2 linked regions of the Homo sapiens genome follow. The protein of the gene in region 1 interacts with the protein of each later gene in a biochemical or structural test. Each region holds a gene or a part of one and is shown on either strand. Other genes may lie near its edges.

Region 1 (7,748 bases):
AATATGATTTGCTTGGTTAAAGGCATGTTCAAAGTACTAGGAACATACAGAATGAGGAGGAGCTAGCATAACCTGTAGAGTCAGAGAAAACCTCATTGAGGAGGTGACATTTTGTGATAAGATAATAGGGTCTTTGACACTTAGAGAAGAGTTGGGAGAAGAGTTTATCACCTGATGAAAAGCCATGTACAAGCATGGCTATGAGAAAATTTGGCCAGCTCAGGAGAGGGCTGGTTGTTGCATGTGTCTGGAACACAGGATCTGTGTCAGGTGCAGCAGTGGCAGTTGATAGTAGGAACTGAGGTCATTAAAGGACTTGGCATGTCATGCTAAAGAGCACCCTGTTGGAAGGAGATGGGGTGAATAAACCCTGGGGCATTGAGGACTGGCTGAGACACAGAGAACAGTTAGTGCACTGAAATAGTTCAACTGTGAGAATTTGGTAACCACCTAGTTAAGGGATGAGCCTGAGGTTTATTTGATAACTAAGTGACTTAATGGATGTACTGGTAAGAGAGAGAGGAAACATGGAGCAAGTTTGAGGGGAAAAACAGTGACTCCGTTTGTGCAGCTAATTGCATATGTGGGCTTGTGGGTCTTTCATTTATTCATAAACGTGTTGAGAAATACCTGCTACCTATCTAGTAAAGTAAGAGATGCATCCTCTCTTAAAGGCAGTCAGCTTAGAGTCTGGTGATTTGAATTGACATGTCCACTGATAGATGTTGACACTGTGAGACTGGCGGTTCAGTTTGAGGTTTCATCAGCATTGCCGATATTGGAGCCATGAAAAACCAAAGAACAGCCAGTGAGAGAAGAGATCTCAGAGAAAATAAAATTGAGAAAGTGAAGGACAAAAAATGTTGTGAAGATAGACCAAGATTGATGGAATCAGCCATAGAGAGGTCAAGTGGGATGAGAATGAGCACGCATCTGTTAAACTTTGTGCTTAGGAGCAGAATCTAAGGGAAGGGACAGTCCAGAGGTTAGAACTCAGGGTAAGATGGAAGAACAGGGGCATCTGGGAGTGAGGCAGTTTGGTTTAGTGTAGAACCTTTTTGTAACAAGCATTCCCTTCTGTCTAGATGACTTTTAGATATGTTTCATTGGCTTGGTACCTTTTAGAATAAAATGATTTAGAGGATCTCTCATTTTCAGGGAAAATAAATATATTCCTCCTGGACAAAGAAATAGAGAAGTCATATCCTGGGGAAGTGGGAGACAGAATTCACCGCGTATGGGCCAGCCTGGATCGGGCTCCATGCCATCAAGATCCACTTCTCACACTTCAGATTTCAACCCGAATTCTGGTTCAGACCAAAGAGTAGTTAATGGAGGCAAGTATTTTGACCAGACTTGTCAATATCATTGATAAAATAGTTTTCTAAATACTTAAAATACTTAAAATAGTTTACATAACTGATATGAATGTGCACTTTAATGATTTGGTGAGTAGCTTTCACTTCAGCATTACTTAAAATTGGCTTTTGTGGATATTAAATTAGTAAAACATTGTATATGTCATTGACATATATATTATTTAGCATGATGAAATATTCATGATGTACTAAGATAAAGTGCTACATTTAACCCAAGACAATCACTTGGCCAAAAACACTTCACATATAAAGAAATTGGAAACTTTGGGTAGGTTCTCAATTTTAAAAACACTGGATAATAAAATTTTTTAGACATAATTTATATGGAAAATTCTAACCTATGTGCAACACTGTGGTTAATATAGATCAATTTTCATTATTTGTTTCTATATTATGCTTACTTCAAGAAAGGATCTGAGGTAACTTATAATACAAGACATGATCAAGAGTCATGTGAAGAAAGTGACTAGAGAAATTTGCTTAAAAAACAACAAAAACAACCCTTAGTCTAAGGGTGGATGTTACAGTTTAGCAACTTAAGTAAAAGAAACCTGAATCTTTAGTAGGAAGACATTTTTTACTCTACCTCTAAATCTAGGTTGAATATATCTTGTAGGTTGTGGATCTTTTCCATAAATCAGGGATACTGAACAACAGTTCTATGGATGGTATGGAAATAGTAATAGCAATAGTATGTTACTAACTTTGTGGGAAAAGAGTGGACATTCAATTTTAGCTATTTAAATTTGGAAAGTTAGATGAAAATAGAGAACACTAAGTTTCCAATTTCATTTGTTTTCATTGAGTCTTTTCTCCAGAATTCCTCTCCAAATGGACACTCTTGAGTATTTTCAGTACTTAATATTGGGGGTGAAATTTCTTTGCTCACTGAGGAAAGATTTTAGTTGTTTATAAACAGAATTTTAAAGTTAAAAAACCTGAAGGGGGCTGAGAAATATATGATACTTAAGTGTGTGGAACCCTATGGAGAGGAGACCTGGACTGTTTGATAAGATTAAGGTAAGTGATATGTAATGTTAAATACTAGCTGTATCTTTACCTAGGCATATCCATCAGTATAAATTTATTTGGTGATGACTGCTTTGTAGTTGCAGTATTTATTAAGCAGTCGCTTAGATAAGTGTTTAACTGTATAAATTATTTAGAAGGTCTCCCTTTTTCTAGTTTAATGAGGTCAAGACTTTTTTTTTGAAATAGCAATGAATATTATCATTTGATACTCACAGGAGTCACAAACTCTAGAAGAGTAATGTTTTATTTCTACTTAAATGGGACTTGCTTAATAAGATTCCAAACTGAGTTCTGGGTTCAAGTGTAAACCTGATGAAAATCATAGATAATTGTAAGGAACCAGCATTTCTAATTGGATATAATAGCTACTGCTTATTTTCGTTATGCCTCAGAGTTAAAACTAATACAGTAAATAATCTTACTCCTGAGTAGGAATTATTGTGATTTATTATGTGAAATTATCTAGTGTATGTTATATTCCTTTAAACAACCAGTTACTGAGAAACAGTTATAGAAGCAGGATTAATAGGCAAAGTCTTAACTGTCTTCTTCAATAGTGTGTATAGATCCTAATTAACCCTTTGGGAACGTGTATTCATTTAAACAGACTTAATCTTAAGGAGGTTAAAGTAAAATGTGAATTTATGTCAGTTAAGTTATGCTAAAACTTATCACAAATCAAATGACTGTCCTCAAAGGGTTAAAATGTACAAGAAATCATTTTTGTCATTTTACTTTTTTTCTGTTTACTTTTTTCCCTCATTTTTTTCTTTAGTTTTTATACTTTCCTTCATATCATTTGTTCTGTCAGGTGTTCCCTGGCCATCGCCTTGCCCATCTCCTTCCTCTCGCCCACCTTCTCGCTACCAGTCAGGTCCCAACTCTCTTCCACCTCGGGCAGCCACCCCTACACGGCCGCCCTCCAGGCCCCCCTCGCGGCCATCCAGACCCCCGTCTCACCCCTCTGCTCATGGTTCTCCAGCTCCTGTCTCTACTATGCCTAAACGCATGTCTTCAGAAGGTACAATACCACAATTTGTTCATGTTTTTGTTTGTCTTTGTTTAACTCCTATGTGAGTTTATAATTACAAAATAGTTTCCTCTTCATTATTTAATAACCTATAATTTCTGTGTTTTAACTTTAGTTTATTAAAACTATTTCTATTAACCTTTTGTTCATTAGAGAGAAATTTGATAAATGTGTGAAGCTATAAACTCTCTTGAATTGTTGTTAAAAAGGGGGTTTATCTCTGCCTGATAATTATGCTTCTTTACAGCCCCAGAAGGGTCTGCCCCACAGCCTTCCCCCTCCTTATTTGCACTGTATACAGTAGTTAAACAAATGAACTTTCTTCAGCCAGTCTTGAACTTAGGTTCATTTTACAGCTCTTTGGCCAAGGTCCTAGTGAACCTTCCTATTGGCCATAAGCAGGGATGGTGTTTTCTGGGTCTTTTTTGAGAGCGACAGCCCATGTAGCTGACTTTGCGTGTCTGCCCTTAGATTAAAGTAGTTGATTTTTAGAATGCCAGAAGAATTCTAAATTTAACTGAGTAATTTTTTTAAAGTTAGCTTTGCAATCTTACATAGTGAAAGGCTGCTTTAATCTGGAAGAAGTCCTTGATCTGAGATAAAATTGATAAAAACGACATATGAATTTGAATATTTAGCTATTTCTTTCCTCGTCAAAAATAAGAATAAAATCTTGTAATTCTTATTCAGTATTTGGCGCTAAATCCATCATTGCCACATATCAAATACAGGGATATGTTGTAGAAAGGTAACATTCTAATTTAAATGCCACCCATATATTAAAAACCTGTTTTCTGAATCATAATGTCCTTTTGATACTAGTTCTGAATATTTGTGTTAAAATTTTAATCTGATTTGTTCATTAAAATTAGTTAATATTGCTTATGTTGGGACTAATAAAGTTTTCCGCACAAAATGTGTTTCTCCTGCTTCCCTGGAGAAAACTGTATTGGCTACTTTTAAATAAATTGTTACCATCTAAGCAGGCAGGTCATATGACTTTGACTGAAGCATCTAACCTTGAAGAGCAAGTTCCACTGATTTTCAAGGTGACTTCTTTGCTCAAAAGGGCCTTAATAGTGGTCACTAAATGCAAAATTCTGTTGATATTTTTCTTGTAGTCCATCATTTGAGTAAGCGATGTTTATTTAATGAGAATATATTAAATAAAACATGATCATTAATGACTGTGAACATCTTTATTACATTAAGATTTAAGGACTGCTCATGTATTAACTTCACACAGAAATATACTTTCTGTGTCATTCAGAGATGTTGAATATTTCCATTTGAAAATTATAGTGTATAACATTAGCATTCTTCTAAAGATCATGTTCGTGTTTAAATTCCTGTTGGAAGCCAGGCATGGTGGCTAACGCCTGTAATCTCAGCACTTTGGGAGGCTGAGGCAGGTGGATCACTTGAGGTCAGGAGTTTGAGACCAGCCTGGCCAACATGGTGAAACCTCGTCTCTACTAAAAATACCCAGCTACTTGGGAGGCTGAGGCAGGAGAATCACTTGAACCTGGGAGGCAGAGGTTGCAGTGAGTTGAGATCGTACCACTGCACTCCAGCCTGGGCGACAGAGACAGACTCTGTCTTATAAAAATAAAAATAAAATAATAATTCTATTGGCAACATATATTAATTTGAAGTTCTAAAGAGTTTGGCAGCCGGGTGAGAGAGTGAGGAGATTTGGCTTTGACATTAGGGAAGTTTTCGCTTGGTGTTAACACCAGTAGGCTTCTCTGATGAGGGCCATTCTGTCCACTCTTTTACCTGATAGATTGGTCTAATGCACAGTAGACTGATTTAGAAAGAGTAGTCACTAGTGGCATGGCAGAATCAATAATGTAGAATTTTGACAATTCATATAGTGCTGATTTCTCCCCCAAATGTCAGTTATTTTGGTCATCTATTAATAGACTAATACAAGTCATCCCTTTAATAGAATTTTCAGCTCACAGCCTGCTAAGCCTAAGAAACTGCTTACAGGTTACTGCTTACTGTTTTAAGCCGAGTTTTAAAATTGATGATCATGATAGAAGAGATAAATAAACTAAAATTTTAGAGAAATTTAAGAAGGGTATGTACATATGTTTTAGTGGTATCGGGGTGTATAGGGATTAATAGTCTTCTGTTTAAATTTTTTTTTTCTAATTTTAGAAGTAATGTAGAAAATTCGGGTCAGGGAAAGGTAAAATATATGGAAAGTTAAAAATATTTTATCATGTAGTCATAATTTCTAGTAACATATTTCTTTACAAATAAGACATAGTTGAAACAGATTGCTACAGTTCTTTTAAGAGTTGACATCTTATTGTTGATTTCTTACCACCAACTTCATCCCTCCCTTTCTTTAAAAATAAAGGGAAATAATAAAATTTATTTATAAAACTTTGTGGCATTCCACAAAATAATTCTGAAAGAATTAGTATGGCCAAAAAAATATGTATGGTGTTTTTTTTTTTTCTATTTTTAACCAAGGAAAAACTGTAGAGTGAGTGAGTGTGTGTGCATGTGTGTGTGAATGGGTGTATTTAGCAGAAAAGTAGTACTGATGAATATCATGGAATTTATGTGATGTTCACTGTTTCTTCCTTAGGGCCTCCAAGGATGTCCCCAAAGGCCCAGCGACATCCTCGAAATCACAGAGTTTCTGCTGGGAGGGGTTCCATATCCAGTGGCCTAGAATTTGTATCCCACAACCCACCCAGTGAAGCAGCTACTCCTCCAGTAGCAAGGACCAGTCCCTCGGGGGGAACGTGGTCATCAGTGGTCAGTGGGGGTAGGTAACACTTGGGCATAATGATGGTACTCATTTTGTCATTACACTAGATATAAAGAGGGCTGAGCTACAACTCTGTTTGAGGAAGTGTAAGTATGTATATGTTAAAAATAGTAGAATCACCAGGAATTGGGAAACCCATATTTTTATTCTGGGCTCTACCACTTATTCATCATATATTAAAGCAAGTCAGACACTCATTCTGAAGTTGAGATTTCGCAGTGAGTAAAGTGTTAATAATTCTTGCCTAGTCTACATTATGGGATTGTGATGAGATTCCTATAAGGTTCATAAATACAGATATATTGTAAAACTATAAAGTTTTGTAAAGTACCTCTCTAATATGAGGCAAACACAGTATGTAACACTATTTGGAGGGACCGTATTTCCTTATCTTTTTAGCAGCTTTGTTTATCAGTACATTCTATAAACATTTATTTTTGGCTTACATTGTAGTGTGTTTCTATAGCATCTGTATATGGCACTAATTCCCAACTATATTTCCATAATAAGGAATATCAAATACAAATAAAGGGTCCAAGTTTTATTTGTGATTAGCATAAGGAATATGCTGACAGCAGCTATAAAAGTATAAAAATTAGGCTGGGTGTGGTGGCTCACGCCTGTAATCCCAGCACTTTGGGAGGCTGAGGTGGGCGGATCACAAGGTCAGGAGATCGAGACCATCCTGGCTAACACGGTGAAACCCCGTCCCTACTAAAAGTACAAAAAAAATTAGCCGGGCATGGTGGCGGGTGCCTGTAGTCCCAGCTACTTGGGAGGCTGAGGCAGGAGAATGGCATGAACTCGGGAAGCGGAGCTTGCAGTTAGCTGAGATCACGCCATTGCACTCCAGCATGGGCAACAGAGCAAGACTCTGTCTCAAAAAAAAAAAAAAAAAAAAAGTTTAAAAACTAGACGTTGACATGATTTTACAATAAGGCTGACTGCTTTTGCTACTTTGCCAATCAGTCCTTAGTGCTTTGTTCCCATAACTGTGGTAAGCAAGAGCTTACAAAGAATACTTAAAACAAACAAACAAACAAACAAAAAAAACACTTTTTCTCTTTTAATCAGTCCAGAGAACCTTTAAAAGAAACAAGATCGGCCAGTTGCTGTGGCTCATGCCTGTAATCCCAGCACTTTGGGAGGCTGAGGTGGGTGGATCACTTGAGGTCAGGAGTTCAAGACTGGCCTGACCAACATGATGAAACCCCATCTCTACTAAAAATACAAAATTAGCTGAGTGTGGTGGCTATTTGAGAGGCTGAGGCAGGAGAATCATTTGAACCCAGGAGGTGAAGGTTGCAGTGAGCCAAGATCACACCATTGCACTCCAGTCTGGGTGACAAGAGCGAAACTCTATCTCAAAAAAAAGAAAAAAGAAACAAGATCTTCAAGCTTAAGGAAACAAAAACAAAACTCAGCTGTGTTAAATCTGTTTTTAGTTGCTATACATTTCTGCTCAGCTTCATGTGATGCACATTCATGTAATTGTATCCTAAATTCCTTTGTACTT
Region 2 (7,748 bases), on another chromosome or scaffold:
ATAATGATATTGTTCCCTTAAAAATGATTCTGTGGCATTTTCTCTTTTTAAAAAAGAGACAGGCTCTTGCTGTGTCACCCAGAGTGGAGTGGCACCATCATAGCTCACTACCGCCTCAAACTCCTGGCCTTGAGCAATCTTTCCACGTCAGCTTCCCTAGTAATTGAGACTACAGGTGGGCACCACCATGCCCTGCTAACTTTTAAATTTTTCTGTAGAAATGGGGTCTTGCTATGTTGCCTTGCTGGTCTCAAACTCCTGGCCTCAAATGATCCTCCTGCTTTGGGCACCAAAGGTGCTGGGATTATAGGCATAAGCCACCACACTTAGCCTGCATTTTCTATTTTTCAAACTTAACATATGATCCCTTTTATATGAAAAAGCAAATAAGAAATGAATTTTATATTTTTTCCAGTCACCACCAGCCTTTACATGTGCTGTTAGCCTAACTGCTACATACTGTTTGGATCTAAACTTAAAGATACTTCCCTCCAGGAATCCTTTGCGATGCCCCTCCCCAACTGATGAGGACAGTGCCGCATATCTGGGACTCTCCTCAATCCCCCATCAAGGCACTTGGCATATTTACTTCACTCTAATTAATTTTAAAATAGACTCTACCCTCAGTTCATTATAAACTTTGTGAAAGCAGGGACCATAATTGTCGTGCTCATTGTAATATCCCTGGGACAGGGTTGCAGGATGTGCTCTCCTGATAACTTTTCTCATCTCTATTCAATGCCTCTAAGACTCAAAGTTTAAATAAAAGCCTTGTGAAATAAATGTCAAGATTGTCAGCCACTGAATGCTGGAAGTACCTTAAGCTGTGATTCTATCTGGGGTTTCCATTGAAGATGGGATTTGGGGTATAGTCCTAGGTTAATGTGTAATCCCAACTCTAATTTTGAACCTGAGGAACCTAGGTATCCTAGCATCAATTAAGTCATAGGCTTTAACAATTTTTTTAATAAAGCTGTTTTTGCCACTAACACTGGAATTGGTTTCTAGGCAACTTCTTTTATAAAAACAAAAACAAAGAAAGAGAAATTGAAATGTTCTCTTTGAGGCACAAAACTAATTTTCTCTAGTTATGTGCTGGAGAAGTGATTAAGTCTTTTAAATGAACACAGTATTTTTGCTCTTCATGGGTCTGTTTACCATCAGAATCTTAGTTGAGAAATGATTTTGAAAATAGTTCTGTTTCATACATGGTATAAGTGAAACAAGGCATAAGGCCCACTCTGCAGGAATTTACCATTGGTTCCTTATTTTAATCCTTAGACTCCTAGAATTGAACTATAAAACTAGAATAAAATTTAGAGATCATCACATAATTCGAGAGTTTGTAAAAAGCTCTCCATGGAAGCACCCAGCTCCACAGAGTCACTGCAGGGGCCACCACAGTGAAGGGAGGATGGGGAAGGGCACACAGTGATAGAATTTGAGCGTGTAATCCTGCTTCATCCAGAACAGAATTGCTGTAATTCATTTTAAGATCTTAAGGGAAAGGGAGAGTTTAGTGCTTTAAAAAAGTGGTTGATAAGACTGACTGACGGAGAGAACACTGGAGCGTACTGAAGGTACACTTATCAGTAGCTGAGCTACTTTGTAGGCTGCTCTGAGACCTGATCCTCCATCCAGCCCTATTTCCGCAGTGTCACATTGCCTACTCTGAAAGCTTGTTCTCTCTTCACCTTCAGCTTCCAGAGCTAAGCTCAGCATGATCAACACCATGTCAAAAATCCGTGGCCAGGAGAAGGGGCCAGGCTATCCTCAGGCAGAGGCGCTGCTGGCAGAGGCCATGCTCAAATTTGGAAGAGAGCTTGGAGATGATTGCAACTTTGGTAACAAGTGCTTCCTCACATTGTAATTCTTTCATTTGTCCATGGGGATTTTGGTGCTGGTAAGAAATTCTGTAGGGAATCGGTCAAATCATTTTATATTTTGGTTTTCAGTTTTAGATCCTACACACATGGGCCAAAAATTTGTTTTCAGAATTATTTCATCCGCTCTAATGTGATTTATCTTACAAGTTTTCTTCCCACCCCCCCCACTATAAGACCTCAGTCTTTACAACAGCTTTGGTTGACATATCCAGATGCCTCCTTGGCACTTTCTATTGGGTGTTTCTGGCAGTCATTGAGTATTGAAGCAGAGTGAGCAGGCACAGTCAGCATGATTCAAAGCCCTCCCTGCCTCATGGCCTTTTTCATAGATCTTTGCTCACTTGTATATGGTACCTAGTTCTACTGCCCAAGGTGAGACATGATTTATTCCTTCACCCTGTCTCCCCCAAAACTCAGCTACCACACCCAACATCTTCTATTTTCACCCCCTTGTGATGTGGGATCTCCTTCCTGGTTGAACCCGGCTATTTCTGGTACTTGCTTCTGCTAATAGATTTGCCTTAAGCTAGTCCCACATTAGGGAAAGCTGGTACTTACAAGAGAGGGCAGGGAGCTTCCTAAATTGCTTCTTAAAGGAAAAAGTAACTGTTCCATTCTTGATGAGAGGTATTTACCCTCTTAGGGGGCATTGAGTCTGTTGCCTGGAGTGAACTGAAGATACCTATTCTCTCTTGTCTGTTGTCTTTAGAAGACAAGTGGTAATCCTTTGGGTTTTCATCTGTGAAGGGCCCTGTTATTGCGAGTGCATTTCATCTTTATTCTGTAACATGAAAGAGCTTTATTCTCTCCTAGGCCCAGCACTTGGTGAGGTCGGGGAGGCCATGCGGGAACTGTCGGAGGTCAAAGACTCTTTGGACATAGAAGTGAAGCAGAACTTCATTGACCCTCTTCAGAATCTTCATGACAAAGATCTTAGGGAAATTCAAGTATGTACAATGAGTCTTCTGGAAAGTGGGCAGTTGAAATCATACAGATGCAGATGCCTTTTTTCTTTAGAAAACATTTTTTTAGCTTACCCTGTGTGTTGTCAGCTCTGGGCACGTTAATTACAAAACAACCCAGTAAGACAAAATGAGAGAAACCAGAAATGTGATACTTTTCAGCCTGTTATGACTGTGCCACTCATGAGGGCTGTCTCTGGCTTCTCTATGTTTGATTTTCATATTGAATAGTTTTTTTCAGACTTTTTCTCCAGAGGATAATATACTTTTCCTGAGAATACACAGTTTTGTTAATTATTCTATGGTTTGCTGGGCTGATTTCACCCACTAAAATGTTAGTTGTACTAGTTGTTAGCTTAAATAAATAGTTATTCTATCACTGCATAAGCACATATTTTTATTTTTTTCCAAGTCTAGAAATTAGATGGATGTTATGTGTTTTTATATTAATATTTTCATAATGGTTGTTAGGATTGAGGAAGAATACCAACTAGCCACTTTCTAAAACATGTAGAGCAGTTGAGCTGTTTATAATAAAGTTCATATGTCTTTGAGTGTGGAATGTTTGCTCACTTTTTTTTATCTAACAAATATTTGTTGAGCTTTTTTGAAACTTTGTTGGGTGTAAAATGGATTGCCATAACTTGAACTAGGGCCTCCTCCTCCTTATTCTAGCTTAAATCTCCTTTAGCAGTACCATTTGCTCAAGATTATAGAGTTAGTAAGTGACAGACTGACCCTAAATCCAAAATAGAACTCTGACTCCAATGCTGTACCCTATAGCTCAAATGTTTAAAAAAGAAAGTTCCTTCCAAATGAGCATTTAGTTTTTGGATCAGGGCATGGACTGAGGGGCGGGGGATGCAGTGTGAGGGAAGGTTTAGAATATTATTCTTCCTCCTTTCCTTTTCATTTTTTTAACTACTCCCTACTTTGTTTTCATTTCCTTTCATTCTGCTCCATACATACTAGTAACAAGGGAAAATCCAGGATTTTCCTTCATCCATTAGTAGTGAAAGACTAGCTATCGGGGAAAAACAATACTTTTTAGCTTTGGAAAACTACTTTGCTACCTGGTCACTAGAGATGATGGGTGGAGCCTGGGCAGCCATCTACCAGGTATGGTGCAAGGAGGGGATTGAAGCTCAGCATGGAGCATTAGATATAATCCCTTGGTAGGTCCCTTCCAAGTGAGATTTTGTTCTTGAGTTCAATTATATGTCAAGTGGGAGGCTTAAACTAAATCACTGGATTTAGTTTCTCTGGTGACAGCTGCATCAGTCAGCTGGGGCAAGTGTTAAGATGTAGATTCCTAGGCCCCCACCCTAGATATCGATTCAAGAGCTCAGGAATCCATATTGTGATGAGCAACTTACGTGATTCTAACAGACTGGATGATTTGAAAAGCAAGACTGCCATTTCTATCTCACTTAATTTCAAGGAAAGAGTTTTTCCTCTGGCTTCTCATGAGATACCATTTCTCTTGAAGACAGGGCCTGTGGGGCCTGTGAGTGTGTCCTTTCATTGTGTGTAGGGCATGTGCATTCCTTCTCTGTTTCTGTCATGGGCTGCAAAGGCTTAGTCCAGCTTGGCTTTGGCCTGACAAGGCCAGAAAATAAAGGGCACTGATATTTCCTATAATTTATCTTTTATTCTTAATTATTTTTAAAGATATTCCCCCATATTTAGCCTTTGAAAGCACTGGCCCCATTGATGCATGTTTCTTTATTTCTCTGGTGGCGTTGTATTTTAAAACTTAGCCTATCTTAATTTGGAAGTTAATGGACGTGATGGAGAAGTGAGCTCAAATAAGCCTTTTCCATAAGCCCTTTCAAAGCCTATTCCTGCCCTTGACTTTTGCAGCATCATCTAAAGAAGTTGGAGGGTCGACGCCTGGATTTTGATTATAAGAAGAAACGACAAGGCAAGATTCCGGATGAAGAGCTTCGTCAAGCTCTAGAGAAATTTGATGAGTCTAAGGAAATTGCTGAGTCAAGCATGTTCAATCTCTTGGAGATGGATGTAAGTGACTCCTGTGGTTTTCAATTTAATCTTATCATCGAGGCACAACATTAATATGTTAAAGGCCATAACCCTTAAAAGCATTAATATCTGATTACACTATGTGATAAGAACTTCAGTAGATAGTTATTTATTTTAAATAATTGTCAGTCATAAAGTAGACTGAGAAATAGAAAAGTTTCTTCTGCATTCCTGTAGTTTAACTAGATTCTCGACTGCTAATGAATCTTAAAGTACAGATGCTCCTTAACTTATGATGGGGTTAAAGTCTTGAATATATCATGTAATTTATCGAATAACGCATTAAAAGTAAAAAACAGAATGGTTGTAAGGGTACTTGAGGTATGGTTTCTACTGAGCACATATCAATTTTGCACCATCATAAAGCCTACAAATCGTAAAGTCAGGGACCATCTCTCTTATCAATAGTGGGAAGATAAAGGATATTTCTGAGGATCTATGTATAACTCAATAGAGGCCTGAGAACTCAGTTGTGGAGCAGGGGGCATCAGTAGTACTGGTGCAAGTCCCAGAGTCCAAAGGCCAGAAAGCCTAGAGCTGTGACATCCAAAGACAGGAGCGTATGGGTGTCCCTTCGCTAGAAGAGAGAGAGAACAAACTTGCCTTTCCTCTGCTTTTTATTCTATCTGGGTCCTGAGCTGAGTGGGTGGTCTCCACCCCCATAGGGAAGGGCAGCTCTTCCTTTGTTTAGTCTACTAAGTGAATGCCAGTCTCCTCTGGAAACACCCTAACAGACACACCCAGAAATAATGCTTTACCAGCTATCTGGGGATCCCTTAATCTAGTCAAGTTGTCACCTAAAATTAACCATCACATTGCCTACTTGCCTTACTCCTGACTGTGGCAGGGGAAGTGTGTTGAACATATCCAGACTTTCCTACCACCTGGAGACAGTGTAGGTTTTTGTTTATGTAAAACAACTTGTGTCCACCTAACTCCTCGAGAGGAATACTGTGTGCATGAGGGGTGCTCCAAATCACAGTGCTCCTTCCCTGCAACACAGCACCCCTCCCCATCCCCAAATTCATGGGACAACACTGCTTCTGTTGACTTGGAGGCTGCTACCCAGCTGGATCATAATGTGAAACATAAAATCAAGAGAAATCAAGCTTAGAATATTAGAGCAAGAATGAACTCAAGATGTCACTTGATTTAACCCTTTTACATTACAGATGAGGCTCAGAGAGCACAGAAGATTTTCTGTCATACCATGTCGCCTCTCCGGGTACATTATGTGAGATATTGTCACATTTTTATTAACAGTACCGATATTAACAGCATGAAAAGTATAAGGAACAAAGAGTCCTTTGGCCAGTGTACCTTCTTTTCTATAGAATAAAAGAAGTCAAATCCCAGATACAAGATTGTAGCTAAGCATGAGACTCTTTAGAGCTATATGGTCTTCCTGAGGGTTACCCATGTTGCTTCTCCTCATGGTACTGATACGCATGATTCTAAGCATAAGGATGCTTTCTTTTATCCTTGATGGATTTGAAACCTGCAGAACTATCTATCTTAGTTGGCTTATCACACAGTCATCAGCACCACCAACCAGGGGCTGTGTGTTGAGGGCAGCCCTGGTGTATGTATGAAACAGTAGTGGCTGTTTAGGGATGGTAACGTGTAAAACTAAGGCATGATTTTCCCATCAATCTGCAGATTGAACAAGTGAGCCAGCTCTCTGCACTTGTGCAAGCTCAGCTGGAGTACCACAAGCAGGCAGTCCAGATCCTGCAGCAAGTCACGGTCAGACTGGAAGAAAGGTATTCTACAGTTCCCTGCATTTCACATTTGCATTTTATTGCTATAAAATGATGTATAAAGAAATGGAAATCATAGAATACATTTGGAGACAAACGTCTGCCAAAATTCCGCTTATCCTACAGAGGCGCCTTGTGGATTGTTTTGATTTTGTTTTTTCTTGTGCTTTGTTTTACGTTGTTCTGTTGAATCTAATTTTCTGCTTATGAGAGATCGATACTTGGATTATATTTTGGCTGCCACAGGTGGAACACCAGGATGCTACTGCTGATAATGGATGCCATTTGCTGAGCAGTTATTCCATGTGGGTACTGGATACATATCATCATCAATCTTATAACAGCCCTGTAACCTAAGTGTTTTTAGCCTCGACTAACAGATGAGTAAACTGAGGCTAAGAGAGGTGAAGTAACTAGCCCAGGGTCACTCAGTGGTGCAAGTGGAGTTCACAGCCAGCCATAACCTGTGTGAGAGGCTGTTTCTTTTCACATCTTGTGTTTCTCTGAATGGCGGTCAAGTCCTCTGCCATCAGAGAGAGCTACTTTCACCTCATTAGATGTACCTCACAGCAGGGCTGTAGTAGTAGGAAACTACCGTGTGAATGTGGCTCCGTGGAGTTGTGGGGCACAGCCTGTTTGGCTATATACCAGTGGCCCTATGTTATAATATGTGTTATTTTAATTTAGCCAGATTAAACAGGATGATTTTGCTGAACATGTATACCTCAAAGGGTCACCTCAGCAAGCTTTTTTCTTAGGCCACATGGCCAGATTAGACTCTCACAGCTGATCACATGGCTGCCTGCGTGAAGAAGACACCAATCATACGATTCCACACCTGTTTTCGTTGTTTTCCCTCAGGCTGATCTCATTTCAGTATTTTCTTTGATTCATGGTTTAATTGAGCATTTTCCTTCGGCGCAGCCTTATGGAAATTTATGTAATGCTGAAGCCTCCAGAAAGGTTTTAAAACCATATACTTCAAAGATACTAAAGAAATACTATGTGTCTTTGTAATGTCTCTTGAGCATGAAGGGAGCCCTTTCCTTTTTTTCCTCTGAAATATGTTCAAAGTCAGTATCATTCTACAGTTACCA

Evidence for each region.
Region 2: the proteins of ATXN2 (region 1) and SH3GL2 form a complex in vitro, tested with the Homo sapiens proteins (one study listed by BioGRID).

What each region holds. Positions count from the first base shown.
Region 1 is NC_000012.12:111,511,838-111,519,585, reverse strand, and holds part of ATXN2 (ataxin-2), read left to right. Parts: intron 1-1,158; coding exon 1,159-1,337; intron 1,338-3,222; coding exon 3,223-3,432; intron 3,433-6,046; coding exon 6,047-6,229; intron 6,230-7,748. UniProt on the Homo sapiens protein: Involved in EGFR trafficking, acting as negative regulator of endocytic EGFR internalization at the plasma membrane.
Region 2 is NC_000009.12:17,784,681-17,792,428, forward strand, and holds part of SH3GL2 (endophilin-A1), read left to right. Parts: intron 1-1,700; coding exon 1,701-1,844; intron 1,845-2,699; coding exon 2,700-2,833; intron 2,834-4,711; coding exon 4,712-4,870; intron 4,871-6,550; coding exon 6,551-6,654; intron 6,655-7,748. UniProt on the Homo sapiens protein: Implicated in synaptic vesicle endocytosis. May recruit other proteins to membranes with high curvature. Required for BDNF-dependent dendrite outgrowth.